Regions from separate parts of the Homo sapiens genome. Here region 2 is linked to region 1. Evidence: fine-mapped expression QTL. Tissue or cell type: hippocampus. Region 1 holds a variant in brackets; the other region holds the start of a gene. All regions are shown on one strand. Distances are from middle to middle.

What was found. PIP is the estimated chance that this variant, and not a neighbour inherited with it, causes the effect.
Region 2: SEPTIN11 starts here. The variant in region 1 is fine-mapped to the expression of SEPTIN11 in hippocampus (GTEx, PIP 0.94).

Annotation. Positions count from the first base shown.
Region 1 is chr4:77,244,721-77,253,140 of GRCh38, reverse strand. No RefSeq gene overlaps it. Among named protein-coding and RNA genes, the nearest start is that of CCNG2, 92 kb to the right of the region's middle. The variant T/C (reference allele first, on the strand shown) is at 3,520.
Region 2 is chr4:76,946,151-76,952,113 of GRCh38, reverse strand. SEPTIN11 (septin 11) reads right to left here and starts at 2,362. Exons shown (of 10, transcript NM_018243.4): 1 at 2,184-2,362. The coding sequence starts at 2,210. LOC105377294 (a long non-coding RNA gene) reads left to right here and starts at 2,549. Exons shown (of 3, transcript XR_001741739.2): 1 at 2,549-3,151. RefSeq lists silencers at 2,068-2,377, 2,408-2,587 and an enhancer at 3,498-3,577.

The DNA.
Region 1 (8,420 bases):
TTCTACTATTCTCATTTGCTGAAGGCTCAGGGTCAAAGTTGAGGATATTCTGAGAAAACAAGCTGAGAGTTAAAGCACAGTCCCATCCCTGAGTGGATCACTTTAGTCTCTCTCCATCTTGCACCTATGAGAAGACTTGGACAAGACTGCTCCTGCCTGGAGACATACCTCAAAGGAACCTGGGACTAGGGGTCTAGAAGGGCTCTGCTACAGCCACTGGACAGGTTTTGACTCAGTTCTAATTCCCTGAGAGGTTTTTATCCTTGTGGCAAAAGAGCATAAGATTGAAAGGATTCCCTATTTAATAAGTGGTGCGGGAAAACTGGCTAGCCACATGCAGAAAACAAACTGGACCACTTCCTTATACCTTATACAAAAATTAACTCAAGATGGATTAAAGACTTAAATGTAAAGCCCAAAACCACACAATCCCTAGAGGAAACCTAGGCAATACCTTCAGGACATAGGCATGGGCAAAGACTTCATGACTACAACACCAAAAGCAATGGCAACAAAAGCCAAAATTGACAAATAGGATGTAATCAAACTAAAGAGTTTCTGCACAGCCAAAGAAACTATCAGAGTGAACAGGCAACCTATAGAAGGGGAGAAAATTTTTGCAAGCTACCTATCTGACAAAAGTCTAATACTCAGAATCTATAAGGAACTTAAATTTACAACAAAAAAAAAACCATGAAAAAGTAGGCAAAGGATATGAACAGACACTTCTCAAAAGACACTTATGCAGCCAACAAACATGAACAAAAGATCATTGGTCATCAGAGAAATGCAAATCAAAACCACAATGAGATACCATCTCATGCCAGTTAGAATGACAATCATTCAAAAATGGGGGAGAGTCTACCCTGTGGTCCAAGCCATCTGGAACATGGGGGAATAGCATGTTGAACTCCTATTCAACTCAATCTATGGAAGTGATAGATATATAGACTACTCCTGCTATGTCCTTCATGAATTGTGGTGTTAAGATATCTACAGACCTAATTCTTAGTTTCCAGTTTAATTAGAAGAATGGAAGTCGATGATATAGTGGCCCTATTGAATACTCCTCCCAACCTGCTTAGAATAAGCACAACTTTAGTCCTACCATGCCATCTCACTTGCCAAGCACACCCAGTCACTGAAGATGAGATTCCATCTGGAGGGCTCTATAGGAAAGGCAGCAGTTCGACAGGAAACCTGTGCCAAGTGCTTCTACATGGAAAAGCAGGTCAGAGACTAGAAAGCAAATCCAGTCCAAATCACTAGATATGAAATGACTTGATTTGGGAAATCACTAGCTATGAATTCACTAGATTTGGGAAATGCAAATACGTGTGCTAGCCAAGACTGTTCCTCTTAAGTAGATAACCTGGGAAGCCCATTGACCTTCAGACCCATAAGATGTAAGTAGAAATTGGAGTCACGCCCACCCTGAGCTACAAAGTATCACAAAACAAGTAGTTGTGGCTGGGCTTACTGCTCTCAACAGAATTAGGTAAGGGAAGAAGAGTTACCAGCTCTGTGATTAGCTTTTACCATTCTCTAATATGATTCTTGCGCTCTTAAATTCTACTTGGTGAGGTCCCAGGGTCCCTGCTATGCTGAGTGACAGATGCCCATGTCACTGCCATCCTGCCAGCCAGTTCCTTCCACTTCTCCTTTCTGGATTTCCATGATACTTCCGTCTCCATATTTGGCACCACAAACATGCTGAGCTTCACAGAGTCTGGTGTGCACTGCCCTTCTCAGATGTGAAGAGGACCTGCTGCATGTGGCAACATGCTCAGCCACATACTCACCAAGTCACAGATTTGGCAACAACCAGAGTATGCTGGTACACAATCACACCCCCTTCTTGCCATCAGTGGGACAAGTTGTTCCAGCATGTATGATGAAAATAGTTGGTGCTTCATGCGATGCCCTTTTACTGAGTCAGGGCATTTACCACCCAGCAGCTAAGACTGCTGGCTGCTAATGGTTCCCAAGCCACTTCTTCTGGAGAACTGCCCTCAGCCTAGTAGAGACCTCTTCCCCAGCAGCCCACAGCCAGTACTGACTCTGGGAATAAGATGCTTACATCGATACCTCAACATGGCACTTGCACACTCAGAGCAACATGCTCTGTACCCTCAACATGCTTTTGTACCCTCAGAGCTCCACCATGGGCCCAGATGGAAGCTGAACTCCAACATACCATATGCCTGCTTAGCTCTCTCCTCTGCCCCTCCCCTAGAAAGTCTTATGCAGGCACCTTGACCTACAACAGCATGGCTGACTTCTAGTTCATGAAAGGACAGAGTGCAAGAAGCATCTCAGTGGCCCGTGGTAGGACAATTTTTACCTTCTTTAAAGAGGCACAAGTTAGCTTGAACAGTCAGAAGTCTGTTGTGACATAACAGACAAGAACCACAGTAAGCCATTTGACAGGCACTTGGATGTGTTAACATCAATATTACTTCTAATTCCGGAATGCAAGTTCCAATCTAACAAGGCAGATGAGGATTCTTCCACAATCATGTTTTATCTGTTCAGCTGAAAAGGGGATCCTAGGAGACAGGACAAGTTACCCTGTCAGTGCCTTGGTTCTCACAGGACCCATGTCAGGTCATTTTCCTGGAAGTAAGAGCCCAACTTCCATCTCTGACTTCCTGTCTCTACATGACTGTTGACTCAAGAGTCACACAGGACAGAGCCTGATGAGGGTCTGCCCTGGCCTGCAAGTACAGCAACTGCGCAAAATCCAGATCCTGCACACTACAACTCTCCATAGGACTCCATATAATGGAGGACAGGGCTCAGCCAAGGGTTCAGTTTGTGCTTGAAAGTTATGGGTGTCTGGAATGTTACCCTCACTTGGGTCATCTTTTGTACCCCCACCTGTGCCATCTATCACTTTGTAGTACCTGAGGCACACCAGTACCATGCTCTAGTTGTGGTTTCTATAGCTTAGATTTTCCCCTCATGCTCATAGCAATTTCCAGGGTCTTCAGCAATGTGACCTGGAAGAGAGGCCCATTCACCTAATACACTTAAAGCTCACCTCTCAGACACCTGTCTCAGTATTTAAAAGAGGGTGTCAGTCAGCGTACCAATAGCTTAACCACATGTTGAGCCCTTAATCCAAAGTCAGTCATCTGGATACAAGCTATCTACAACACCTAGGGGAAACTGAGGGAGTTGAACAGACTGAAGGATTTAGGATGTTCCTGAGAATAGTATACTTGGTAGTGAAACACTGGAGTCCCATGAAGAGGTGTTCTGCCCATTTCTGGCCCCTTTATAACATGCCATACCATGGTTTCCTCTAACTTCTAGGTACAAGCCAACATGTTGCAGCCCTTTATGGCCCTAGATAATTCTTATTACACTGGCATGGTGTATTCCCTCGTGTTGACTCCACCTGTGGAATTCTTTCATCTGTCCCATTAAAACACAAGTGTCTAGAAAGCCAGAGATAATTCTACCTTCTGAATCCAGGAGAAGCAATGCCCACTATGGTCTTATCTACGGTCTACA[T/C]AGAGTCCAAGAACTAGCATTACTGAATCAGAGAGGATGTCAACAGAGCCAGACTGGTTGGGGGCAAGGAGATGCCAGATATCCATCTTGCCACCAGGGGGTAGAGGGTATTTGGGAATTCTATCATCTTTCTCTGTACTGGTAGCATTTTCCAAGACCTGAGAAGTGTAGTGAGTGTTTTGCTTCTGTAAATTCAGTGGTGTCTGAAAGAACACTAGATCAATTCAGGTGAACTACATTCTAAACCTAGAATGACACCTCAGCTAAATTTCCCTGGCCAAGTAGTTTGCCTATAAATTCCTCATGCAGTAACATGCTGACTTTAGCCATCAAGGATGCAGAAAAATCATGAAGTGCTTTAAGAACTTTGACTCATATCAAGCATCATAACTGTTCTTTAACATTCTCCAACTTCTCTGGAAGAGCCATGGAAACAACAAGTTCTAGCGATAGTCCTGCCTATCCAAAGTCAACATTGGGACATTGATTGCAAAGACTGGCAAAACTTGTCTACCCAAGCCCCTATGCAAATTGAAGATGCCTGCAAGTGACCCTGTGGTTGCACATGAGCACATTCAGCTGCAGGCGAATGCAGGGAGGATGTCAGGCTGCCATGTGCTCTGTTCCCACAAGGACTTGGTCTCATGCTCACATTGTTTACTCTGCCGTGTTTTATCACGTGTCTTCCCCACATTGGGAAAAAAGTTAAACAAGCCTAAGAGGCCTAGCAAGGCTCCCATTTTAAAGCAAAGTTGTACACAGTAAGACACTGGAAGGTGAAAACATAGAAGATACAGCCATACATTTCTGCCTTCTGATTCCTTTCTATGTAAAAGTATGAACAAGGTGTTTTTCAAGGTAACATTTGCAGAACCTTGTCAACCCTCTACTCTTTGGCCCTCAATCCATGCTCCAAGGTGTTTGGCATTAACAGAAAAGCCAGTGTCAGCTCCTCTATTTTCACTCTGCTTTATACTTTAGCTTCTATTCCCACCCCCGCCACCCCTCACTGAGGTCCTCTGTCCTAAACAGCTTCCACTTTGAATCCCCAGCTTTGTGATCCATTTTCCTTTCAGCTTAACTCATTCCCCTTCCCAAAAACTGCCTCCCAACCCCACCCACACCTGCATGCCCCAAAAGTCTCTTTAGGACTCTGACTGTCAGTCACTACTACTCCAGAGAAGCGCATCTCAGAAGCTGGCCAACTGAGGCCCCAACTGACCCAAATTTCTCAGGAACTTCAATTTTTGCCATGTGACTCAGTGTTCCCACCTGGGCAAGATTGTGAACCTCAGTTCTCAAAGTGACTCAGGTCACAAAGATACCAAGTGGGATCTGGGTCTTGGAGGAGGTCATCCGTCATTATTACACAAGACCATTCAGAAGTAGCCTTGTAGAATGTTCAGACAGCCTCAGGAAGCCTGGCAGAAGCACTAGTTACTGGGTCAAAAAGGCTTCACACTTAGGATACCCTCATATAGGATGCAGTACATACATCAGGCAGGCTGTTCCATGGTACTGCAGGCCCAGCAGGAAAACTAATGGTTTGGGAACCAAGAAATAAAAAAAAAAAAAAGTGGGGGCCACTTATGCTTTTTTTAATCAATCCATGTGAACCACTGCGGGATTTTGAGAGTCACTCTTCAGGAGTAACTGACTGATCAGAGGGCTACTTTTATATTCTGAGAGGTAGTAAGAATGAATGGAACCCAGCTGATGCAACCGGGCATCCTTCAACTTCCTTGCCCCACTCCAACAGATACAGCCAAGCAGCACTATCTTGAAAACCTATGGTCTCTAGATCTTTATGCCCCTCAGGCTGAAGATCTGGGTCCTACCACCCGGAAAGCGTGAACCTTCAGCTGAGATCACAGCTGAGGCCAAAGGGAATTTGGCAGTGGATATTGGAGGAGAGAGGATGAGGATTCGTTGTGACCCAAGATCCCACTACAGCCACAGGAGCTGCATTTTGTCACAGCATCTTGAGTTTACTCAGGAAAGGAGGCCTGAGGGACATGGAGTTGCTGCTCTGAGAGCCTGTGTAGCCAGGTCCCTCTGTGCAGCACAGGGGCTGACTTGGCAGCCATTAAGGTGCAGCTGCAGTGCTCAATATGCCCATTCAGGACACATGTGACTCCAGTGGGGATTTGGGCTCTGGGACTTACCAGGATATTTGCTAAAACACTTAGACTGAGGTGCGATACTAAGCCACTTCCTATCTGACATTTCTTCTCTTTCCTCCCAAGTCAGACATGTGTGATCCTCTGATCTTCTCCCAGGTTCAATTCCTTATAGAACTTTCTCTTCAACCCCAAGATTCTTGAAGCTCTCAATCTACTTTAGCCTTTGCATCTCATGACACAATAGCATGTAGTTTTTAGATGCCAACTAAGACTCTAGGGTAAACTCAGCTCTATAGTAAGTTGAGATATAGTTTCTACAGCTCCGGAATAAAGCCCCATGTGAAAAGTAGCGTATACATGTCCATGACACTGTCACAAGTGCTCCATTCAGAGGGAGGATGACCATTCGTCTGAACGGAGATGACTAGGCCAGATCTTGAGTTACCTTCATACCTTGGGTGTTGACTTTCATGTTGACACGTTTGAGGTATATGGGTCATCCTTTCCAAGAGGGAACCCCCACCCCTCCCAACTGTCATGTTTCAGTTTGCCATGTTACTGTCTCATAAGTGCACCAGGAAAGTTATTTTCGATTCTCCTATCTGACTCCATTCTATATGCCATGTCTGCTACTAGCCCAGATGAACTTATGGCTGCCATGCACATAGCCATATACCAGAGGGCCTCAGTGCCCCAAGAGGCTCATTACTGAGTTTCTCGAGCATAAATGGTCAGGGGAACACTGACTAGGGAGGCCAAAATTCAAACTTGTTTTTACTGGAGGCTAGCTGGATCCTGGCAATTGTATCACCCATGCTAGCATGAGGGCTCGTGTTATAGACATGACACCCATCAGCTAGTTCATCCCTTTACAGTGTTTCCATTTAAAGCTTTGTTGTTTCAACTTTAGTCATTCCTGCACAGAAGTTCCAGAAGTGGTGGGGGCTACCTGACTTTAAAAGAATGTCTTGAGCAACAGAAGCTTAACATATCACCTTATCTTTATACGAGCGGCACATAAGGCTGCTGAATTAGAAGCAGGTCAGCCATAATTCAGCATGATGTCCATGTTACATGGGCTCTGGCACAGCCTTTCTAGTTCTCCTGAAGGCTTACTTCTCCCTTCCCTATTCTGAAGTATTTAATCTGATAAGCCTTAGACACTATTCAGTACTCCTAACTCCAAGCTTGTTAACTAGCAGGTTGGTTTTAACTTTGCAAGTGAGAGAAAACCCAGTTTATTCTAATATCCACATCCTTGGTTACACTCCATTGGGCTGCAAGTATTAGGATTCTTTTGATCACAAGTGATCCAGAATCCCACCAACTGCATTGGCCTAGTAACAAGGAAATTCATTAGCTCACGAACTGCAAAGTCTAAACACTGTTGGCTCCAAGTGAGACTGATTCAACAGGCTCAGGTGCACCAGGAGTAAGACTTCCTTTGTCTCTTCTACCCTCCATGGTATCAGATTAAACTCTCAACCCCACCACCCTCTGGATGGGAAGTTCTAGGCACTCCCTTCATGACAAATGCTTTGCACTAATCATTCAAGTTTTTTTCCCTTCCAAATGCTCTTCTGGAAACATCAGTTCTAGCAATATCTTCTAGGGTTTCAGCGGCATGCCCATCCCTGAACTAGTCACTGTAGTCAGGAGAGAAGGGTCGGGACATGGCATACCTTAAGCTGGAGTCAGATCTATGGGGAATGGTCGATTTCTCCCTAAGGATGTCAGAGTGTGTGTAGCTGCCAACGTGGGCATCAATATTGAAGTACCTGACAAGTGTCCTAGGTAAGGTGCTGACAGTGTACGATCAACTAGGCTATCTGAGTTTTGGTCAACCTACTCGCTAAGGAGTTCCCTCTTAACATTCAGGTCCTGCTTTGGCTTGTTATTGTCCCTTGAGACCTCACAACGTGGACTCCCTGATAAGAAAAATTTGGGGGACTACAAAATGTATCTAGCTACACAGCCTTGGGATGCCTAGTCAAAAAACAAAGATCCACTTTCTGATCTGAGCAACTCATGAAAGGGGTATATCACATAAGCAACAGCCTCTCAGGCAGCTAAGGAAACAGGTATCCTCAAGTACCTGAGATTATCTTTTTCGACACTCATACCAAAGAAGCAACCCTATTAACTTATCCTACAATATGTCCAGGAATAAGTGACTCCACTGAATTTCCAACAAGTTTTTTAGCCAGACAGAAGACCACTTGACCAGCCTTACCAAAGACTTGCTGAGTTGAAACCTACAACTCACGCAATTCAGGCATTTAAGTAGTCCAAGTTTCCCAGTGCTCGGTGCAACTGGGATCAGGAGTAATTTCAGGAGCCAATTTCCTTCAACCCCATGGGATCCAGACTAGCAACATGAGGATCCATTCTCTGCTTCAGACTTAAGTGGGTTCTAAACCCTCTTGAGTGCCCTGGGATTTACAACCACATCCTAGGCTTCTTAGGTAGAGGTCTGGTGGCCATAGGACCCAAACTCCACTCAGATGCCTGCAGTGAAGAGTAATTGACCAGCAGCATCCCTGTCATGGCACAGCAGCCGAGCCTAAGGCAAGCTCATTGCTGCAAAACAGGGGACTCCACTCGTGAACAACGTGATGGTTAATACTGAGTGTCAACTTGATTGAAGGATGAAAAGTATTATTCCTGGATGTGTCTGAGTGTGTTGACAAAGGAGATTAACATTTGAGTCAGTGGACTGGGGGTGGCAGACCCACCCTCAATCTGGGTAGGTACCATCTAATCAGCTGCCAGCATGGC
Region 2 (5,963 bases), 300 kb after region 1:
TGAACAAAGTGAAAGGATTCAACAATTATCTGTGAAATGTGATCACATATTTTCTGTAGACTTTCTAACTTTATAGTCAATTCCTAATCACTCGTACATTAGGTTTCCAAAAGAAAAGTCTTCTGTCTTTAGATTGTAATTTAATTTTAATTCCAGTGACAACAGAGTGCGCAGAAAGAAGTCACTTCCTCTGTGCACGTATACTTAAAAAAAATCTCCTCTATTATCTGAAGAGGGAGGTCTAACATAAGAATTCTGTGGGATTAAGCTCACATATGGTTGGCCGACTTGGTGTTGGATGTGATTACGGCCACACAACTAAACCTTAAATCCACATACTGTTCCTATTTAACTGACATATATGAACTAATTTATAGAAAATGTGCAGCTAATTATTTCTTCCACCTCCTCCATCCCTCAAGAATGCACCAGCAATAATACGTGTTACTGAAAAAGCCAAACACCCCCACTGAATATTTGCAATCCTAAACGTTTGCCAATTTATCTAAAGCAGATATTGTTATTTTAGTTCTCTGAATCTATGCCTGCTAATAAGTATAATGGGGGGCAGGGGGAGGAGTAATTTAACCAGATAAATTTCACCTCTATAGACCTCAATTTTCTCACCAAAAATAAAACGACTAGCCCAGAGACTATGCAAATTCCCTCAGTAACAATAACCTACATGTGACCACTAATTATCAAGAGCACAATTTATGTGCAAAAGAAGACCAGAATTCTTAAAAGAGCCATGTCATTAAATCGTAGAGTTGAAAAGGCCTAAAAGACAGTCATGATTCGATATGACCGCTGTGTTTTCTGACTGCAGAAAACGTCTTTGAAAGCACCGCGGGCAGCCGAACCACCAAATCGAATTAGAATCCGCAAAGGGACCCATGAACTTCTCCCGAGGGGGTAGGGTGCAAAAGGCGCGCGTATCTGGGGAGGAGTTAGGCGGGGAGAGGGGGAAGAGCCGGGAGCCTGAGAGCACAGCCTTGCATTTCTGGGATTTCCGAGCTTCCAGTATCTCAGTAAGTCTTTCGTCTGTAACTACAAAATCTCCCGAGCCACCACCTGCAGCTGCACAGCTGTGGGAAAGGGAAGAAGAAAAAGGGAAGAGGAGGTGATAGACAGGGAAAGACATCGCCCGAGGCGCCCCCAAAGCCAGTAAGGCGAGTGGACTGTGAACATCGACGATGAAAAGGGGAAAGGGAAAACAGGAGGACTCCGCCTTTCCCACCCAGCTCCGCTCCTTTCAAAAAAAAGGAAAGGCCGCCGCCGCCCCTTCCTCCGCCTTTCACTTGGGGATGCGGAGCGGCCACTGAACCGCACCCTCGGAGTCCCGCTCCCCTCCGGCCCGGCCCCGGGGCGCGGACCGAGTCTTGCAACCCAGTAGGCGCGGCGCCTTGGCCCACACACTCGGGGCAAAGGTATCTCCTCCCTCCTACTCTCCTCCCTCCCGCCGTGGGGCACTCGATTCTTCACGCACCCGCCCGCCCTTCCTCTTCCTCGCGTCCCAGCCTCCTCAGCCCGCCGCCCCCGGCCTTTCAGCCGCAGAACATTTCAGTCCTTCCACCCACACCACAAGGGAGCCTCCAGAAAACTTTGTGTGTGTTATCTGGGGCTTTGTCCACATCCTGGGCAGGGCCCGCTCAGCCGGGTGGATGCCCGAGGGTGTCCGGGATCTCACAATGCGCTGGGGAGGCCACCACGGAAATCCCACCCCTCTGACCTGCTTCTACAGCAGTGCCACACGCAGCACTTCAGCTCGCAATTCCCATGCCCTGAGCGCCCCCTCGGCGCGGGGGAGACTGGAGGAAAGCCCCGAACCCGGCGCCCTTCTGGCTGTCACGAGGGAAGAGGTGCGCGGGCAGAGGGAGGCGGCTGAGACACGCCGCGCCTCAAAGAATTATTTTAAAGGGAACAGGAGAGGGGTCCTTTTTCTTTCGCATTCCCAGAAGAGGGGCGCGACGAGGCGATCCACTGTTGCATCACGTAACTGAGCCCCTGGGCTCCTAACCCCGACCCCAGACGCGCGCCCAAATTCGTGCACACACCCACAGCCGTCGCCGCCGCCGCGGGGCCGAGCACCCGCCCGGCTCCCCTGTGGTCCTCACCGCACCCGCCCCAGAGCAGAGACCACCCGGCGCCCGAGGAGCAGCAGGCGAGGCCCCAGCACTCACAGACGGTCTCCCCACGGCCACGGCCATCGCAGCTGCGGCACCGGCTCCGGCTGCGCCCGGGTGCTTTACGCCGACTCCGGCTGCTGCTAGTGCTCGGGCTCCGGCTCGCCTCCCTCGCGCCTCCCTCGCGGCTGCGCTCTGCTCGCCGGCGTCCCGCTGGCAGCCAGCGGCATCTGCTCCCCCCACGCCGCCGCCCCTCCCGCTTTATTAGAGCAACATGGCCACCCGCCTGGAAGGGACCATTCGCTTCCCCAGGAAGGGGTGTGAGCCTGCGCGCCCGGCCGCGGTGGTGGGCGGGAGGATGGTGGGCGGGCTCCGAGCCCAGCTCCACTGGCCCCGGCCGCGGGGCTCGCCCCTCCGTCCCCAAACGACCGTCTCCGCTGCCATGAGATGCCGACAGCCTGTGCGCTGGCCGCCACCCCCTGCTCCATCAGGTGCTGGAATCTGAGTAAAAGCCTGGGCGCGAGCTCCCAGCCCCGGGGCCTGCCACCGGCTCCACGAAGCGGGCAGCTCCAGCGGCCGCCGGGAGAAGGAAGGGCGACCGGGGGAGACGGGTCGCAGGGACAGCACGTGGCGGAAAGTTAGCCCCGGACTAGCACGCCCCACCCGGAGAAGCCGGCCTGGAAGGGGCTGCGGACCACCAGGCGGAGCGGTGGGCGACCGAAGTGCGGCTGGGCTGGCCTCCTCGTCTCCGCACTGGAAGAATTGCCCTTCCGCAAGTCTTCCCTTCCCACATGGGGGCCCTCCAGGCCGCACCTCGGTCGCCCACCGCTTCCCTTGAGAAGGGAGACTAAAGACAGGCATCTGGAAGCTGTCACTGTGGCGCGCGGGCAGACAGGGGATCCCATTGGAGAGGAAGAGCCGTAGTAGTCGCTGCTGCCTTCGGCCGACCCAACGGCCGCCTGCTTGGGAGGAAGAAAAAGAACGCCCCCGCTGAAGAATTAAGGCAGCCATTGGTTGCTCTAGGGGTAAGGACCGAGGCCTCCCCTGGGTGTCACTGGAGCAGCCACACGTGGGGGATCAGCCGACTTCATTCGATCGCTGGCGACAGACCCGGCGACCCGTAGGAATGCGCGCTGGGGCTGCGGCTGGAGGGCGTGGCGACGGCAACAGGCGGGTGGCTCGAGTGGGTGCGACTCTGGGCGCGTGGGACTGAGAACTCCTCCGCCGTGGGGAAGATTTTTTTCCCAGCAGATGTTGGGGTGTTACTGCGTGTCTGAGGGGCCGGCGGAATGGAGGGGTCCCGGTGCGTGCAGGGCAGCGAGGTGTGTCAGATGAGCTGTGGATCCCTGCGGCCCCACGTGGGCCGGAGAGGGGGGCCCACGACAACAAGCGATTGAGGACAGCGATGGACAGGGCGGGGAACCAGCTGGGTGGAAGCACAGGGAGTGTGGTGAGGAGGGAAGGGCTGTGATCTGCCCTCGGTACGACGCCCCAAGGGACAGCCTGGCCTCCTGAATTAGGGAAAAGACAACCGGTCTCTTTAGACGGGCGCCTCAGAGTCTGACCTGAGTCTTCAAACGCCCAGATCCCCTGGGGCCTTGAGTCTCCCTGTCCCGCTGGCCCTGCCTCGCCTGCGCTTCAGGACTCCGACGCCCCCGCAGCCTTGGGCTAAGGGTCAGTCGTCCCCGGGCGCGGGTCCGGCTGCCCTGGAACTGATGCTGGATTTCGCTGGTAGGTGGGCTAGGGGCTTGGTCACCCCGTCTGAATTCCACTGTCAGGACAGCTGTGGAACCGCCAGAGAAAAGTCTGGCCATGAAAGAAAGGTGAGGGGCGCCGACGCAGAGCTTATTTATTCAGTCTGTGGGCGGACTCAGACGTGCAGAGCACCAACCTCTTCAATTTCTGCCCTCTAGACTCCAAATCTTTTGAAATTAGGGACCACCATTTTATGCCAAACATACAGTAGGCGCTCAATAAGTGTTGAATTAAGATTACACATAAATGGGCCGGGCGCGGTGGCTCACGCCTGTAATCCCAGCACCTTGGGAGGCTGAGGTGGGCCAACATGGTGAAACCTTGGCTCTAAAAAAATGCAAAAATTAGCCAGGCATGGTGGCGCTTGCCTGTAGTCCCAGCTACTATAGAGGCTGAGGTGGGAGAGTCGCTTGAACTCTGGAGGCGGAGGTTGCAGTGAGCCGAGATCGCGCCACTACACTCCAGTCTGGGTGACGCAGTGAGACCCTGTCTCAAAAAATATATAATAATAAGATTACACACAGATGGGTGCTGTGCAAAGGGAGGGGGAAGACAAATACTTTCTTCTGCAGCTCTGGTACATGGACATTTTGTCCTTTCTCCATAAGGAGGATCAGACAGCAGCAGCACTGCCCATGGACCAGAGGCCTCATGTAAGGCCTGGGAAAAGAGGGCTCCACACACCACCAACCGGATGTAAGGGCAGTTGCAAAGGAACTGTGTTATCTTGACCAGAACAGACTGTAGAATTTGTTTATCAAATTTTTTTTTTTTACTTATTTATTTTGTGAATGTATATGCTGTAAACTCATCTGCTTAGATTGTAAGAATGTGAATGCCCTACCTTGGTGGGTAGGTTAGTTTATTCTAATCAGCAAAACTTAACGTTACATATTCCAACATCTCATTTGGGATGTGAAGATGCTATGGGGAGGGTGGGTATCCTGGCATTGCTAGAATGTTGGAGCCTTAGCGAGAGAGTGGCAGAGTGGGGAGAACCTGGCACTTCAGCTACAGATGATCACTTATGAGCTTTGTTATATCAAATAAGTTAAACTTTCATCTCATTTTTTTTTTTTCTATTGTAAAATAGGGTAGTAACAGTGAGTCCTGGGGGAGGACGTGTTCTGTTAGCCAGATCCACTCTCCAACCTGCTGTCTGTCCTTTGGAGCCTTAACTCAAGAGACTTTCTTTCCCTCTAGCTTCCAGTTGAGTGAAGGCACTAGGAAGCAACAGCGATGGAACAAAGAGGAAGGAGTATGGTTATTTATTCCCCCCTGGCTCCCTTACTATGGCACCATTGCAGGCTGGTTGCCTCCCTCAACCAAAGGAAGCAGCCAGTATCCCTCCCTAGGGTGACCCAGAGTAAACCCCTATGGTTTCCCTTCATTTTGCACATACCTTTGCAGATAGTCTTTTTATAAAACTCTACTCACATTATCCAGTAGGAATGAACATCTCATTCCTTCACAGAATTGTTTTGAGAGTTAACTGAGAAAATACTGTATTATTATTATTAGAATGACCTATAATTTCTGTCCAAACTGAGAAACTTTTGAGGCTGGGAAAAGGGGGTTTGTGCTGATAGTAATGATGTCAGGACAATAGGAAAAACAAGGACTTATGGCCACCCCAGCTATTATTGCCAGTAAACTCTGCTTTAGACATATTAAGCAATCAAGAAGTGGTCGTACTATCACGCTTCTGTCACTAGACTATGAATGTCTCAAGGTAAGAGTGCTTTTTTGTCTATTAGCTTCTGTCACATGGTCTGGTATATTCAATAAATTTTGAGTTGGAGATGAGGGTAAAGACTAGGAAATGAATAATTTTTATTGCCATACTAAGGTAATGAAGAGTCAAGGAGGTCTTTAAGCAAAGAAAATTTGCATTTTAGAAAACAGCTATAGTGAATATTTGGCATTGTTAGTAATTTAGGGTCTATTCCCTTTTTAATTGAACCCCAATTTATTTGGAGAGCTTTTCCAATGAATGTTTCAACTTGGTAAAAAGTAAATGCCTCTTAAAAAAGAGGTTCTGGGCCAGGCGTACTGGTTCATGCCTTGTAATCCCAGCACTTT